2 linked regions of the Homo sapiens genome follow. The protein of the gene in region 1 interacts with the protein of each later gene in a biochemical or structural test. Each region holds a gene or a part of one and is shown in the gene's direction. Other genes may lie near its edges.

Region 1 (7,864 bases):
GCCGGCCCTGGCGCGACGGAGGAGTTCTGTACGCAGGCGCATCGCTGCTGCCGCCATTTTGAGGGGCGAGCCGGCCCCTTCCCTCTCGGATGGGGGCCCTGGGGGTGACGTACACACCCCATCCTTCCCGCACCGCCTCTGCCCGCCGCCCGTCGCCCGCCATAGTTGTTGACGTAGCTTTAGTCGATCGCGAAGATGGCTTTATGGACCCTAGGTTCTCCTGCCGGTGGTGGCGATGGCTTCTCGGGGGTGTTGGGCGGTGGCCGCTGTGGTCAGGGAGGCAGTTGCGAGTCGCTGGGGCCGCCGCCTGCGTCGTCGCTGCTGTGTAGCAAACCTGCCTCTGGGCCCATGGTGTGTCTTGAGGGCTGTGAGAGAGGCAGTGCCTGAGCTGGGTCAGCTGCTGTGGATCGCTCCCGCCTCCTGGCTGGAGGCACCAAAGAGGAGGAGAAGGGGGAGGAGGACGTCTCTGCCATCGCCCTTAAGTAAAGGAGGGGTGGGGGCGATAGAAGGATGGCAGGGCAACTTGCCTGTCCTAAGTCTAGCCGCTCGTGGCAAGTGTTGACTGCGTGTAGGAGACTCCCGTCCTATCTCCCAGTACCAAGTCTCGGGGAAAAGGAGTGCGACGAGGGTGGAGAAGACCCAAGTTTCGCTTCTCGGCCCCAGGCTGTTGCGCAGTTTCCCTGGAATCTTTTTGATCGACTGCTACGTTGACCATGTCCTTCCCAGTGTCCTTAGCAGGAGTGATGGCCAGAGAGAGAACTTTTGCACATGCCATGTTTTCGTGGCAAAAATTTTAGTTTCAAGTACCTTATGAGGGCGGTTACCTAGTTTTGAATTTTGTCACTTGTTGAGGGTGTACAAAATCCTATCTAGAGTCATACTCGTTGGATGTATTTTCTTTTCCGAAATGTACCCATAGGACACATAACCTTATTCCTGGTCTTTAATATTTCTCGGTTTTATACCAAGCAGCAGTGTTCGGAAGACCATGTTAGTGCTACATTGTGCACAGTGAGAAATGAACAAGTTTTTTAATTAAAGACAGCACTGTAATTTTAAGTTGTGATCCATTATTTTTACTTTTATTCTGGATGTGACGTGATACTCTACATTTGATTTAGAATGCTTTATGGACTTTATGGAATAAGAAAGCATGGTAAAATCTATTTGTTTCACCTCCTTATACAAATGTTTACAGATGTGGCTAATCTGCAAATACCTAACCAAATTTAGACACATTCAGAGAAGGTCGATTAAGTTCGTGTAAAGTCTGAATAATTATTGAAAGAAAGCTTAAATTGCCTTCAAATATACAACTGCTTGTAGGGCTTTGTATGATTGGAGTGAATAGATTTAAAAAATTGTAATTTGGATACCAGTTACAATGAGCGATTCTGAAAAGTTTGAAGGTGTTTGTTTATTCTTCCAAGTAATCACCTTAAAATGTTTTTGAGCAACTCATTTGTTGCTCAAACTTGGCACAAATTTCAACTACTTAAGTCGTAATGTGTACTATGTTTTTATTTTATTTTTATTTTTATTTTATTTTTTTTGAGACGGAGTCTTGCTCTGTCACCCAGGCTGGAGTCCAGTGGCGCGATCTCGGCTCACTGCAACCTCTGCCTCCCGGATTCACGCCATTCTCCTGCTTCAGCCTCCCCAGCAGCTGGGACTACAGGCGCATGCCGCCACGCCCGGCTAATTTTTTTGTATTTTTAGTAGAGACAGGGTTTCACCGTGTTAGCCAGGATGGTCTCGATCTCCTGACCTCGTGATCCGCCTCTCGGCCTCCCAAAGTGCTGGGATTACAGGCGTGAGCCACCCTGCCCGACTGTGTACTATGTTTTTACTAATATTGTCCATAAATTTGGCCACAGGCAGGAGGAATTACAGTTTTAGAGTGAGATAAGGTTTGGCCTGTTAGGAGCTTAGTTTACTGTAGCTTTATGTACAATATAGCTTTTAAAAACTGCAGTAACAAAAGAGAGACTTCTTTCTTTCTTTTCTGTCTCTCTTTCTTCTTTCTTCTTGTCTTTTAAGGAAAAATGAAAAGGATACTCTTCCTTGTCAGTCTGGATTAGATGGTATATTTCGGAAATTAGCTAGATTTACTCTTCCAACAAAATGCTCAAAAGTATTGATATGGTAATACGTGGCTTTTATTTATGTTTTAAGCAGGGCTTTCTCTTTAAAGTGGCTATTACATTACTCATTAGTAACACAATAGTATAAGTTCCTTAATAGATTTAATTATTAAATATAAATTTTATAGTAATATATTGAGTTCATATTATGAACATTAAAGTCTCCTTGAAACATTTTACCAAGACAGATGACTATGTAGAAACTGGGATACTAGCTTATAAAACTTGGATACAGGCTTGTAAAACTTAGGTTTGAGGGACAAATTAAAAAAGAGACAAGAGATTCTACATATTGAACAATCAGAGGAGAGGTTCTGCATATTATTGAATAATCAGAATATGCATATTTTGTAATTAAAACTGCTTGTAAAGGCTTAGGAATGGCCTTTCAACTAAATTAATGAGACACTTACTGTAAAATTAGAGGTATGGTAACTTTAATGCTAACACACACACACACACACACACACACACACACATATATATATGCATCGGATTTTCCCTCTCATCTAGGTTGTAAGCATAAGGAAACCTACCTCTACTGTGACTGCCTCCTTCACCTAGAAACCTTACAGATACGAAACTTTCATCACTAGCTCTGAGGCAAAGCTAAACTGTTATGAAACTAGATACTCTGCTGTAGCTATTATCCAGACTATAAGAGTGGCTGAAAAGAGGTGACATTACAGTGACAGTAGAGTCATAGCCAATATTATAAGGGATGCGCTGGGCCACTAAAAAAGGATGCCTCAGCTCTGGATATTAAAGTTACTTTGGGAATTTGAGAAATCTGGAGGAATTCAGTGACCCAAAAAAGAAGACCGGTAAGAAAAGAAATGATTAAAACAAAGAATACACTTAATAATTCATTTACTTATCAAACGTGTGCCAGCAATGAGGAAGACTATCTTTAGGGAATTTGTCATTTATTGGGAACGACAGAAACACGAAAAATTACAATTCAGATTAAATGGCATTAATTCACACACTTAACTATTAGGGCTAGGTCTGGAAATCCTGTGCTCTTGAGACTGGGTTCCTAAATCAGTTATTTTATTTCATTTTTAATTAATTTATTTATTTAGAGACGGAGTCTCGCTCTTTCGCCTAGGCTGGAGTGCAGTGGTGCAATCTCGGCTTACTGCAGCCTCCCCCAACTCCAGGTTCAAGTGATCCTCCTGCCTCAGCCTCCCGAGTAGCTGGGATTACAGGTGCCTGCCACCATGCCCAGCTAATTTTTGTATTTTTAGTAGACATGGATTTTGCCATGTTGGCAAGGCTGGTCTTGAACTCCTGACCTCAGGTGATCCATCCGCCTTGGCCTTCCAAAGTGCTGGGATTACAGGTGTGAGCCACCACGCCTGGCCAAAATAATTATTTTAAATGAAACATTTTAGAACAATAAATTTTTTGTACAGGAACTTTTTGCTTTAGGGTAAGCAGAAGTTCATTTATTTAAAGAGATAAATCTATCCGTTGTGACTTAGTAGTACAAATGAAGTAGGCAAACAATTTTAATAAGGAAAAGATGATTAAAATATTAAACAGGAGGAAGTTAATTAAAGACATAGTAGCTGGCTCCATTTATTCCCCAGTCTTACAAATGATAGAAAAATATTTTAATGACAATACAAATGAAAATTCCTGGAAATGTTATACTGAAATTAATTAAACACAATAAAGTGAATGGAATATAGTATTCTTTTTGTTGAATTAGGACTTGCAGTTAATTATTAAACACCATCCAAGAGTGTTACCAAATCCTGTCACTTCTGCCAAGAGAGGGTGATTGAGAAGTGAAGGCACCAAAAATCACATTAAATGAGGAATTATTAATTCAATAAATACTTGAGCTACTGTGTAGTAGGCAGTCCCTGTTCTCTGTGCTGGGGATACAGCAGTGAACAAAATAGACTAAAAGACAAAAAATGTTTCCTGCCTTCTTGGAGATTATATTCTATGGGAGGAGTCGGGCAAAAATCAAAATAAGTAAAATAGTGTGTTGGTCAGGACTGTTATGGGAAAAAAAAGAGGAAAGGGGAAGGGAGTTTTACATGAATAGATTTCTTCTTGAAATTTGGTTAGATTTGTCCTGAATTGCTGTAGGTCAAGAACAGGAATTTTAGACTTACTTCATTTTTCCCCCAACAAATTGTATGTTCTTGGGTAAATTGCTCGCCATCTCTTAATTTTCACATTTATAAAATTAGTAGATCAAAACAGCTATTTTTTGTCACTACTGTCATTTAACAGAAATGCTGCATACGTCATCTAATCTACTAATAACAAACTTATGAGGTAAGTAACGTTGTCCCCATTTGACACACGAGCAAACTGAGGTTTAGATTAGGCAACTCATTGGATTACATGCTCCTCTTAATGGCACAGAGGGTGTGTTCCAGGACATGGTGCTTGCCATTATCATTTGGTACTGCTGCTCACTGTGTTGGTCCTATGAGTTTCTTCAGTCTATGAATTTCAGGTCAGGGTGGTCGACGTCTTACAGAGATGCCTGTAATCCTGTCAGCATGAGATTGCATGGGACCTCTGCGGTTTGGTCGCGCATTTACCGCGCCTGTCGCTGGGTCAGACGACCTGGCAGTAGAGGGTGAAGGATGGAGAAGGCAGAAGGCAGGGCACGGAGACTACTAGTCCCAGGATTCCACGGGCGCCTTCCGGCGGAAAGTGTTTGTCATATGGGCGGGGACCCTGGACGACATTCGGGCCGCGGCGGCCGCTGGGTGCAGCCGAGCGGTGTGGAGCGGAGAGAATACTCGAAGGGCTCTCCTGATACTAACAGTTTTACGATTTAAAACTTCGCCAGAATTTGTAAGTAAACAAAATGACTATGCAGCTTTTCCATGTTTTAGTATTGAAACTGATATCTTGAATTTTTGAAAAGGACTTTCAGAAACGGTCCCTCCCCACCCCCACCTTCGTACCGCACAAATGGTATTTTTATTTTTATTGTTTTTGAGACAGGTACTTGCCCTGTCACCGAGGCTAGAGTACAGTGGCGTGATCATAGCTCACCACAGCCTCATACTTCTGGGCTCAAGGGATCCTCCCGCCTCAGCCTCCCAAGTAGCTGGAACTACAGGCCCGCACCACCATGCCCTACTAATTACTTTATTTTTTATTTTTATAGCGACAGGGTCTCACTGTATTGCCCAGGTTGGTCTCGAACTCCTGGCTTCAAGCGATTCTCCCACCTCAGCCTCCCAAAGTGCTGGGATTACAGGCGTGAGCCACCACGCCTGGCCTCACTCAAACAGTAAACGAGGTAGGTTGGGGGTATATTTTTGTTTTGGGATAAAAAGAAACTGAATCTTATAAATATTAAATGGGTTAAGATGTGAGTAAATTTTTGGGTTTAGACTTTAAGGTGAGAAGCCGAATTATTTTAGGGTTCGAAATGTGAGTGGGAAATTTGCCTACTAGTGTAGGCGGCGATTACTCCATTCCCAACATGCCTAGGTTCTCGACATTCATAATCTTAATCCTGAAAAGATAATACTTAAAAAAAAAAAAAATTGGTGCTAAAAAGGGCAAAGTTGAAGTTTTAGTAAGACCTCCTACCATTTTGCTTACATATTATATATGTACCATTCTCCCAATTGTATTTAATACCTGATGAAAAAGTTTGTGCCTTTTCCTTCTTTTAACAAATTTCATAGTACTCTCTACTTTATGAGTAATGCTTAATTATCAGACTTTATACTGTTACACAGATCCAGAAATGAGTTACATAGATTAAACATACTGGCTTTGTTTTACCTGTCTTTAGGTTTTAACACATTTTATTTTGGATCTGTATGAGAGATCCTTTCTTTGTTTTAAGCTGTGGCAGTTATCCATGTTTTTTGAGCTTTTTTTTTTGAGCACAAGATGAGGATATAAAAGGCCAGTGGAAACATTTAATAAAAAAAGGAACTTCATGGTAGAGTAACTACAGATGTTTTTGGAAGACTTTGTGTGGATTAGAATAGTTTGAAAAACTAACATTTGTTATGAAAACTGAGTGCCTGTCTTCAGTAATGTTTATTATGCTGAACGTGCAGTCCACAACTTGATTACCTGTTTTTCTGCTGGTTTGTTACGCAACCTTGCGTGACTCATTTAAGAACTATTTTATCTAGTTTCTTTCCTAATGTAGAGGTAATGCTAGCTTGAGAGCTTCAATAATTTATAAATAAATTAACTTCAGAATGTAGCTAATTATTTGAGGATTATTGGGTGTTTTAATAATGTATTGTATCTTGTATATAACTTATTTTTGCCTAAGAAGTAATTTCTGTATTCCATTCATTTCCATGGAACACAGAAGTCAAAATTCTATTCCAGGAAAGTCCACACTTCTTTGAAGTGCCACTTGAATTTCCTGAAGGAATGTTTGCTTCAAAAAGCCTTGTCTGCTTTATCACTTTGAGGTTGTTCACTAAGTCAACTGTGAAGGCCCATAAACTTGGAGATTCGACAACTTCCAAAAAAATTTAAAGAATGAAGAATTGGCTGTTTTATTTACCATTTAGAATTTTGATTGTGTTAAAATTTCATTAATATTTCTACATCATATGAACTACTGGATTAAACTGTGTCCTACAAGAAGGAATTCATAGGGCGATCATATATTACCATAAATTTTGCACAGAAATCAAGCACTTGGGAATAAGGAAGCGTGTCCCTAACATTGGTAATGAGCATAGACTGGAGTCATAGCTGGGTTTGAATTCCTATTTTGTTACTGTGTGGGCTGTTTTCCTCTTTACTAATATTTAAAGGAGCTGGCACATGATTTTTTTTTTTTTGGTGCCATGGCTCTGGTATGAACTGTGCACATAATTTTGGTAATCGAAATTTCTGGGAAGAAAATTCACCTATAACTCCACTACCTCAACAAATCAAATTGTTTGATTTTTAGAGATTTTCCTTCAGCCCTTGACCATGAGTATCTATCATGTAAATGTAATGACATTTTTGGAAAAAGTCAAATTTTGAAACATTGGTGTCTTCTGGGGTTTTAATTATATAAATGAAGCTGTCTGGTTTTGCCTTTAATAGTTCAAATAATAATTATTTACGGTTTTTGAGGACTTCTTTTGTGCCCCTGTGGTTGCCAGTATTGCACATTATCTCATTTGATCTTCACACTGCCTCTTTCATCTAAGTACTATTATTCCATTTTGTAATTAAGAAAACCAAGGAAAAAATTAGCCAGGGGCTGGGTGCAGTGGCTCACGCCTATAGTCCCAGCACTTTGGGAGGCCAAGGTGGGTGGATCACTTGAGGTCAGGAGTTTGAGACCAACCTGGCCAACATGGTGAAACCCTGTCCCTACTAAAAATACAAAGAAATTAGCTGGGCGTGGTGGCGGGCACCTGTAATCCCAGCTTCTCGGGAGGCTTGAGGCAGGAGAATCATTTGAACCTGGGAGGCGGAGGTTACAGTGAGCTGAGTACGCGCCATTGCACTCCAGCCTGGGCGACAGAGCGAGACTCCATCTCAAAAACAAAACAAAAAACAAAGAAAACCAAGGGCATAGAGAGAGAGAGAGAAACACCAAGTCAGAAGCTGGAGCAGTCATTCAGGTCTAGGCAGTCTGACCTTAGAGGATAGTGCTATATTGGGTTCTATATTTGTAGATTTGCTTTATGGATGTTAGGTCATATTTGTAGATTGGACTTGATCCTGGAGGCTGACTTATAACTTTCTTTGTATAA
Region 2 (7,845 bases), on another chromosome or scaffold:
TACTCTCTCATATTCTCACGCACAGTAGAGACTCAAGAAGTTAGAAAATTTCAGTAAGGACAAATAAAAGCTACTCATAAGGTTAGCTGGGTGCAGTGCCTCACACTTGTAGTCTCAGCTGCTGGGGAAGCTGGGACAGGAGGATTGCTTGAGACTAAGAGTTCAAGGCTGCAGTGAGCTATGATTGGACCACTGCACTCTAGCCTGCGTGACAGAGTGAGACCACATCTTTTTTTTAAAGAAAAGAAAAAGGTATTGGCCATGCTCGGTGGCCCATGCCTGTAATCCCAGCACTTTGGGAGGCAGAGGCAGGCAGATCACCTAAGGTCAGGAGTTCAAGACGAGCCTGGCCAACATGGTGAACCCCGTCTCTACTAAAAATACAAAAATTAGCCAGGTGAGGTGGCAGGTGCCTGTAATCCCAGCTACTCAGGAGGCTGAGGCAGGAGAATCACTTGAACTCGGGAGTTGGAGGTTGCAGTGAGCTGAGATCATGCCATTACACTCTAGCCTGGGCAACAGGGTGAGACTCCATCTCAAAAAAAAGAAAAGAAAAGAAAAAAAAAAAGACAAATACGTATCTACTGAGGCCCTACTGTGTTCACTGGGTTAGGCGCTGGGGCTCCTGTGGGGAAGGAAACAGGCAGTTGTCTTTGCCTGCATGGAGTAAAGTCTAGCAGTGGGTTCCAGCATGGCAAACCACCTTTCCTGTTCTTTTCCTTCTCAGGGTCCCCTCCTAACCGCAAGCGTCCTGCTAACGAGAAGGCAACTGATGACTATCATTATGAGAAGTTCAAGAAAATGAATAGGCGGTACTGAGTTGTGCAGAGTGGGATGTAAATATCGCCTTCCTCTCCCTATATCCCTCCCATGAAAAATGGCTTCCTGGCCGGGCGTGGTGGCTCCTGCCTGTAATCCCAGCACTTTGGGAGGCCGAGGTGGGCGGATCACCTGAGGTCGGGAGTTTGAGACCAGCCTGACCAACATGGAGAAACCCAGTCTCTACTGAAAATACAGAAAAGTTAGCCAGGCGTGGTGGCACATGCCTGTAATCCCAGCTGCTCAGGAGGCTGAGGCAGGAGAATTGCTTGAACCCAAGAGGCGGAGGTTGTGGTGAGCCGAGATTGCACCTTTGTACTCCAGCCTGGGCAACGAGCAAAAAACTCTGTCTCAAAAAAAAAAAAAAAAAAAAAAAAGAAAAAGAAAAATGGCTTCCAGGACAGAGCATGCTCATTTGCTGGCGGACAGTTCCAGAAACAGACCCTGTTAGTCCTTCTACTTACCTGCTGGATTTTTCAAGCACTAAATTTATAACTTTTTGAAACAAAATAATGTGTAATTTTCCATTTGGGGGCAAACTCTATTCTTGTGAGCATTATTAAATCTTGTTTGTAAATATATTGTCTTTCTCTTAATATTTGCTCTGGGTCAGGAAGAAGCTGTTCACGGTGTGATAATACTCTTTAGATTGTGCTTTCATTATTATAGATGCATCATGTCTTCTGCTTTCACGTGTCTGGGATGGGGTCAGAAATGCATCCTCCAGCTGACAGAAAAATCCAGGATGAGATCAGAAGGATACTGGTGTTTTCTGACTTTTACAAAATTACTTGTTTGTTTTCATTAAAAAAAAAGCATAAACTATGTTTCTTATTACTATTAGAATTATTAAATTTCAAAATGAATCCAACCTTATTGTTTGTATTATGTTTCTTATACCAGCATCAGGTAATGTTTTTAAAGCCCATGGTTTGGGTAGCCTAAATGTAAAACTGAATTACTGAGATGGATTTTCTCATTTATTTCAAACAGTGAGCTATGATTGGACCACTGCAGCATAGACATGCTGCAACCTGCTGTCAAGTACCTTCTTACCTGTGCCCTCATTTTTCCTGAGGCATCCACAGGGGTCCAAAAGAGGAAAGAGCAGATTGGCTGACTTCTGGGTGGATTTAGAGCAGGTATTGTGGTTACAGTGGTTTGGCCCAGGAGTCAGATCTGAGCCCACCTCGCAGCTTACTACTTGTGTCCTTGGACAGATCCTTTTCACTCTTAGCCTCAGTTTTCTCATCTGTAAAATGGAGATTTTTTTTTTTCCTCCACTTGAATATGGTCAGTGAAGGCAGGAACCATGTGTGCCTAATTTTTAAATTTGAATCCCCAGGGCATAGCCCATAATCTGACAGATAGGCAGTCCTCAAAACTATGAATGATCCCTATAGTGTTTGGCTTGTAACAGGTGCACAAAAGTATTTTAAATCCAATACGAAAAAGTCGAAACTTAAAAAATATTTTCAGGATATTTCAACAAACATTTACAGGTCCCAGCGATGTGCAGGGGTAACCCAAGATGAATACTAAAGGCCTAGCACATCTGGCACACAGCAACGCAACACGTGTTTATGGGATGAACAGGCAAATAAGTGGATGGTCAACAGTTCTCACTTGCCAGAGTTCCCTTTGCTAGAAAATGAGTAATCTTTTATCCAGCTTAAAAGTGGCTGCCAGATGGAGGGAGCTGGTTCTCTCACTGTTGGGGTGGGAATTCACAGATAAACAAGGGGAGGAGGCTCCAATGATCTGTGTAATGGATTAGAGTTGGAGATGTCAGCACGAGCTCATGTTTAGCTTAATATAGGTACAGATGTTTACCTATAAAAATATTTATAGATATGTGTGTGTTTAACAGTATATACACACATTTTTTTCTGTCAGCTGAGACTGAAAGAAATGACATCTCAATAGCAAGAAGCACACCTAGCACCCAGACCTTGGTTTCTCTTTTTTTTTTTTTTTTTTTTTTTTGATACGAAGTCTCGCTCTGTCACCCAGGCTGGAGTGCAGTGGTGCGATCTCGGCTCACTGCAACCTCCACCTCCCAAGTTCAAGGAATTCTCCTGTTTCAGCCTCCCATGTAGCTGAGACTACAGGCACACGCAACCATGCCTAGCTAATTTTTTTGTATTTTCAGTAGAGATGGGGTTTCACCATATTGGTCAGGCTGGTCCCAAACTCCTGACCTCAGGTGATGCACCTGCCTCAGCCTCCCAAAATGCTGGATTACAGGCATGAGCCACCATGCCCAGCCAGTTTCTAATGCCATTTTACAATGAAAGGAATCAGGGTTCCTCGTAGAAAATAGGATTCTAGGACTGGGGCAGGAAATACAAGATGAGCCCGGAGTATCCTGTAGTGTCAGAAAGGAAAGAGGCACTCAAACCCAAATAAGCTGGTATATACACTGGGTGTATGTCAAAGGAGCACAAGGAACCACTCAAATTCCCAGTGGCCAAAATGAGAACAATTTGAAAAAAAAATTAGTACTGTAGTATAACAAAGGATAAAATAACAATGGTCCACACTGATATAAATGATTGAATACATGGGGGAGAAGAAACAAATCTCCCATGCAGAATTCCAAATAATTTCTGTAGATACTCTGCCCCCAAGGAGGTGGAGCAAAATCCCCGACTCCTTACGTGTGGGCTGTGCATGGGGACGTCCTTCCAAAGAGTACAGTAGAGAAAAGAGGGGTGGGGGGACCTGACAAACACTACTTCAGTCAAGTGATCAAGTCAGCACCAACAGTGGTAAGTAACGTTGAACAGTAAGAACCCTTCCTTGGTAGGATGTGATGAGCATAGCACTTTACCTCTGTGATCTTCCTTCCAAAACGCCATAACGCTTGTCTAATCCTGAGAAAAACATCAAATCCCAATAGAGGGCCAGCCCACCAAAGATTTGGCCAGTACTCCTCAAAACTATCAAGGTCATCAAAAATAAAAAGCTGAGGCCAGGCGCGGTGGCTCACGCCTGTAATCCCAGCACTTTGGGAGGCTGAGACGGGCAGATCATGAGGTCAGATCAAGACCATCCTGGCCAACATGGTGAAACCCCGTCTCTACCAAAAATACAAAAATTAGCCGGGCATGGTGGTGTGTGCCTGTAATCCCAGCTGCTCAGGAGGCTGAGACAGGAGAATCGCTTGAACCTGGGAGGCAGAGGTTGCAGTGAGCTGAGATCATGCCACTGCACTCCAGCTAAAATAAAAATAAAAGGCTGAGACACTGTCATTAACAGTAGTCTAAGACATGACAACGAAATATAATGTGGTATCCTGAATGGAAACCTGCAGCAGAAAAAGGCATTAAGTAAAAGGAAGGAAATCTGAATAAACTACACTTTAGTTAATATGACAACAGTGCATCGTTAATTTTAACAAATGTAGCACACTAATAATGTAAGATTTTAGTAATAGGGGAAATTGCAGGGATGGGTGGCACATGGGAACTCTCTACTATCTTCTCAATTTTTCTGTAAATCTGTTCTAAAAAATAACGTCCGTTATTATTATTATTATTATTATTATTATTTGCGGGGAGGGGACACAGTCTTGCTCTGTCTCCCAGGCTGGAGTGCAGTGGTGAGATCTCGGCTCACTGCAATCTCCGCCTCCTGGGTTCAAGCGATTCTCATGTGTCAGCCTCCCCAGTAGCTAGGGCTACAGGTGCCTACCACCACACCCGGCTAATTTTATATTTTTAGTAGAGACGTGGTTTCACCATGTTGGTCAGGCTGGTCTCGAACTCCTGACCTCAGGTGATCCGCCCGCCTCAGCCTCCCAAAGGGCTGGGATTACAGGCAGGAGCCACCATGCCTGGCAAAAATAACGTCCATAAACAAAAACACGTGGCCAACAGGGGCGGAGCAGAACCGAGTTTCCGGAAGCAAAACAGGGCTTTGTACCGAACAAAGATGGCGGCCGCCGGCGTCGGGAGGAGGGCTGCCCTGAAGAAAGATGGCCTCCGCGAGAGGAGGAACCGGAAGCGTGGGTCTGGCGGCTGCACCGGTTCGCGGTCGGCGCGAGAACAAGCAGGGTGGCGCGGGTCCGGGCATGAAGCTGGGCCGGGCCGTGCTGGGCCTGCTGCTGCTGGCGCCGTCCGTGGTGCAGGCGGTGGAGCCCATCAGCCTGGGACTGGCCCTGGCCGGCGTCCTCACCGGCTACATCTACCCGCGTCTCTACTGCCTCTTCGCCGAGTGCTGCGGGCAGAAGCGGAGCCTTAGCCGGGAGGGTAGGCTGGGGCGGGGGCTGGAGGCTGGGGCTGGGGCTGGGGCTGGGCGATGGCACTAGGGCTGAACTAGGACCAGGGCATGGAGAATGGAGGATGGAGGCCGGGGGATGGCACCAGGGCCGGGCTAGGACTAGGGCTGGAGCGGGGCCTGGGGGCTGGGGCTGGGCGATGGCACTAGGGCCGGGTTGGGGCTGGGGCTGGGGCTGGGGGATGGAGCGGGGCCCGGGGGCTGGGGGTGGGGCTGGGGGATCGCACTAGGGCTGGGTTAAGACCAGGGCGGTTGGCTGGGGCTAGGGGATTGAGGATGGTGGATGGAGGCTGGGGGATGGCAGTAGGGCCGGGCTAGGACTGGGGCTGGAGCGGAGTTTGGGGGCTGGGGCTCAGGAGCGGGGGCTGGGGCTGGGGCTGGGGCTGGGGGATGGCACTAGGGCCAGGCCGGGGTAGGGGTCACATCCCAGGAGGGCCGGGCCTGGGCAGAGCTGAGTCCGCGGGGGCCGGACCCCGGAAGCCAAGCGGCCGGCCTGCAGGATGAGGCCTGGCTCCTCGGCCATGACCACAGACGTGCCAGACTTAAGTCGGAGACCTGAGGAGCCAGGCTGCAGGTTGGCCTACTTTGCGCTAAGCTGGGGGTGGACCAGTGGTAACCTCCCTCCGAAGTGGGTTCTGCCTCCTTTCTAGCCTAGCGGGAGACAGGAAGGATGGTGAGGACTCTTCCGCAGCCGACCAGGAGGGACCAAACTGTTTCCTTTCCCGGCTCTGCCTTGGGGTGGGAGGAGCAGCACAGGGGTTAGGGGTGCAAACTGGTGGCAGTGGCAGTGGCACCAAGGGGCTTTTCGGGAAGGAGTCGGGCCAGGGCTTTAGAATAGGCAGGACCAGCAAAGGGAGGGCTCCCTGGACCGCCGTCCCCTCTGGGCCAGGAGCTTACAGACCGCAGTACTTGAGGTTTCGCAAGGTGCTTGGAGGGCGTCTAGACGGCTTTGCTGGCTTTCTTATGGGCTGTAAATGTGGCTACATTTTGCCGCTGTTTCTTCCCCACTCCTGATTGGCTTTGTCTTTCCCAGCACTGCAGAAGGATCTGGACGACAACCTCTTTGGACAGCATCTTGCAAAGAAAATCATCTTAAATGCCGTGTTTGGTTTCATAAACAACCCAAAGCCCAAGAAACCTCTCACGCTCTCCCTGCACGGGTGGACAGGCACCGGCAAAAATTTCGTCAGCAAGATCATCGCAGAGAATATTTACGAGGGTGGTCTGAACAGTGACTATGTCCACCTGTTTGTGGCCACATTGCACTTTCCACATGCTTCAAACATCACCTTGTACAAGGCAAGGATGGAAGTTTGGAATCCCTTCCTGGATGTCATCGGGTTTGGGGTCTCTTTGTTGTGGGATGAGATTTGGGAGTTCTATGTTGAAATGAGTGAGCCCGGAAAACGGTTCATGTCTCAGTTCCCCTTGGAAAGGTGTAGAAGTTAAGAGTTTGAGATGCGTGGAGCAGTTAATACCATCAAAGCTTTGTGGTGGGTTCTGAAAATCGGTCCAGTGAGTATGTAGGGTCATGGGATTTTAGAGGTGGACATGATCAAATCCATCTTAGAGATCAACACATCTCACTCATTTTTTTATTTTTTTCTTTATTTTGAGACGGAGTTTCACTCTTCTTACCCGGGCTGGAGTGCAATGGCATGATCTCAGCTCACTGCAACCTCTGCCTCCCGGTTGAAGCAATTATCCTGCCTCAGCCTCCCGGGTAGCTGGGATTACAGGGTCCTGCCACCATGCCCAGCTAATTTTTGTATTTTTAGTAGAGATGGGGTTTTGCCAACTTGGCCAGGCTGGTCTCGAACTCCTGATCTCAGGTGATGTGCCTGCCTCAGCTTCCCGAAGTGCTGGGATTACAGGCGTGAGCCACCATGCCTGGCCACATCTCACTCATTTTGTGAAAGAGGAAACATGTAGAGTCCTAAGTTTGTTGAACCTACTGTTGTAAACTGCCTTTTTTTTTTTTTCTTTGAGTCAGGGTCTCACTCTGTTGTCCAGGCTGGAGTGCAGTGACGCCATCTCAGCTCACTACAGCCTCCACCTTCCCGGTTCAAGCGATTCTCCTGCCTCAGCCTCCCAAGTAGCTGTGACTACAGGCATGTGCCACCACAGCCGGCTAATTTTTGTATTTCTAGTAGAGATGGGGTTTCCTCACATTGGCCAGGCTGGTCTCGAACTCCTGACCTCAAGTGATCTGCCTACCTCAGCCTCCCAGAGTGCTAGGATTACAGGCGTGAGCCACCTTGCCCAGCCGCAAACAGCTTTTATGGTTGAACTCACTGATGAGCAGCTTGGGCTTTGGCAGCAGACACATCTGGATTTGAGTCCTAACACTCTCCCAGCTCCGTAGTCTTAGGAAAGTTGCCTGACCTGAGACTCAGATTCTGACTTACAAAGTGTTGCTTGTAACAATCCAGGGAGCTCTGTCTGTCAAGTGCATAACATGTACCTGGTGCATGTTACAAATAAATGTTAACTGTTGCCTTTTAGATCCTTGTAGCAGACCTGCAAGATGGGCAAAACAGTCAATTATTTATTTATTTATTTTTGAGACTGAGTTTCATTCTTGTCACCCAGGCTGGAGTGCAGTAGCACCATCTGGATCTTGATCTCGGCTCACCGCAAACTCTGCCTCCCGGATTCAAGTGATTCTGCTGCCTCAGCCTCCCAAGTAGCTGGTATTACAGGCACCTGCCACCACACCCAGCTAATTTTTGTATTTTTAATAGA

What was found.
Region 2: the proteins of TOR1AIP2 (region 1) and TOR1A form a complex in vitro, tested with the Homo sapiens proteins (4 studies listed by BioGRID and IntAct, with this or other methods).

Annotation. Positions count from the first base shown.
Region 1 is NC_000001.11:179,874,802-179,882,665, reverse strand, and holds the start of TOR1AIP2 (torsin-1A-interacting protein 2), read left to right. Parts: upstream 1-4,862; 5' UTR 4,863-4,973; intron 4,974-5,292; 5' UTR 5,293-5,427; intron 5,428-7,864. Other genes in the region: TOR1AIP1 (torsin-1A-interacting protein 1), read right to left, coding at 1-163; uncharacterized LOC139427322, read right to left, coding at 273-350. UniProt on the Homo sapiens protein: Required for endoplasmic reticulum integrity. Regulates the distribution of TOR1A between the endoplasmic reticulum and the nuclear envelope as well as induces TOR1A, TOR1B and TOR3A ATPase activity.
Region 2 is NC_000009.12:129,821,135-129,828,979, reverse strand, and holds the start of TOR1A (torsin-1A precursor), read left to right. Parts: upstream 1-4,843; 5' UTR 4,844-4,894; coding exon 4,895-5,072; intron 5,073-6,133; coding exon 6,134-6,399; intron 6,400-7,845. Other genes in the region: splicing factor C9orf78, read left to right, coding at 728-819. UniProt on the Homo sapiens protein: Protein with chaperone functions important for the control of protein folding, processing, stability and localization as well as for the reduction of misfolded protein aggregates.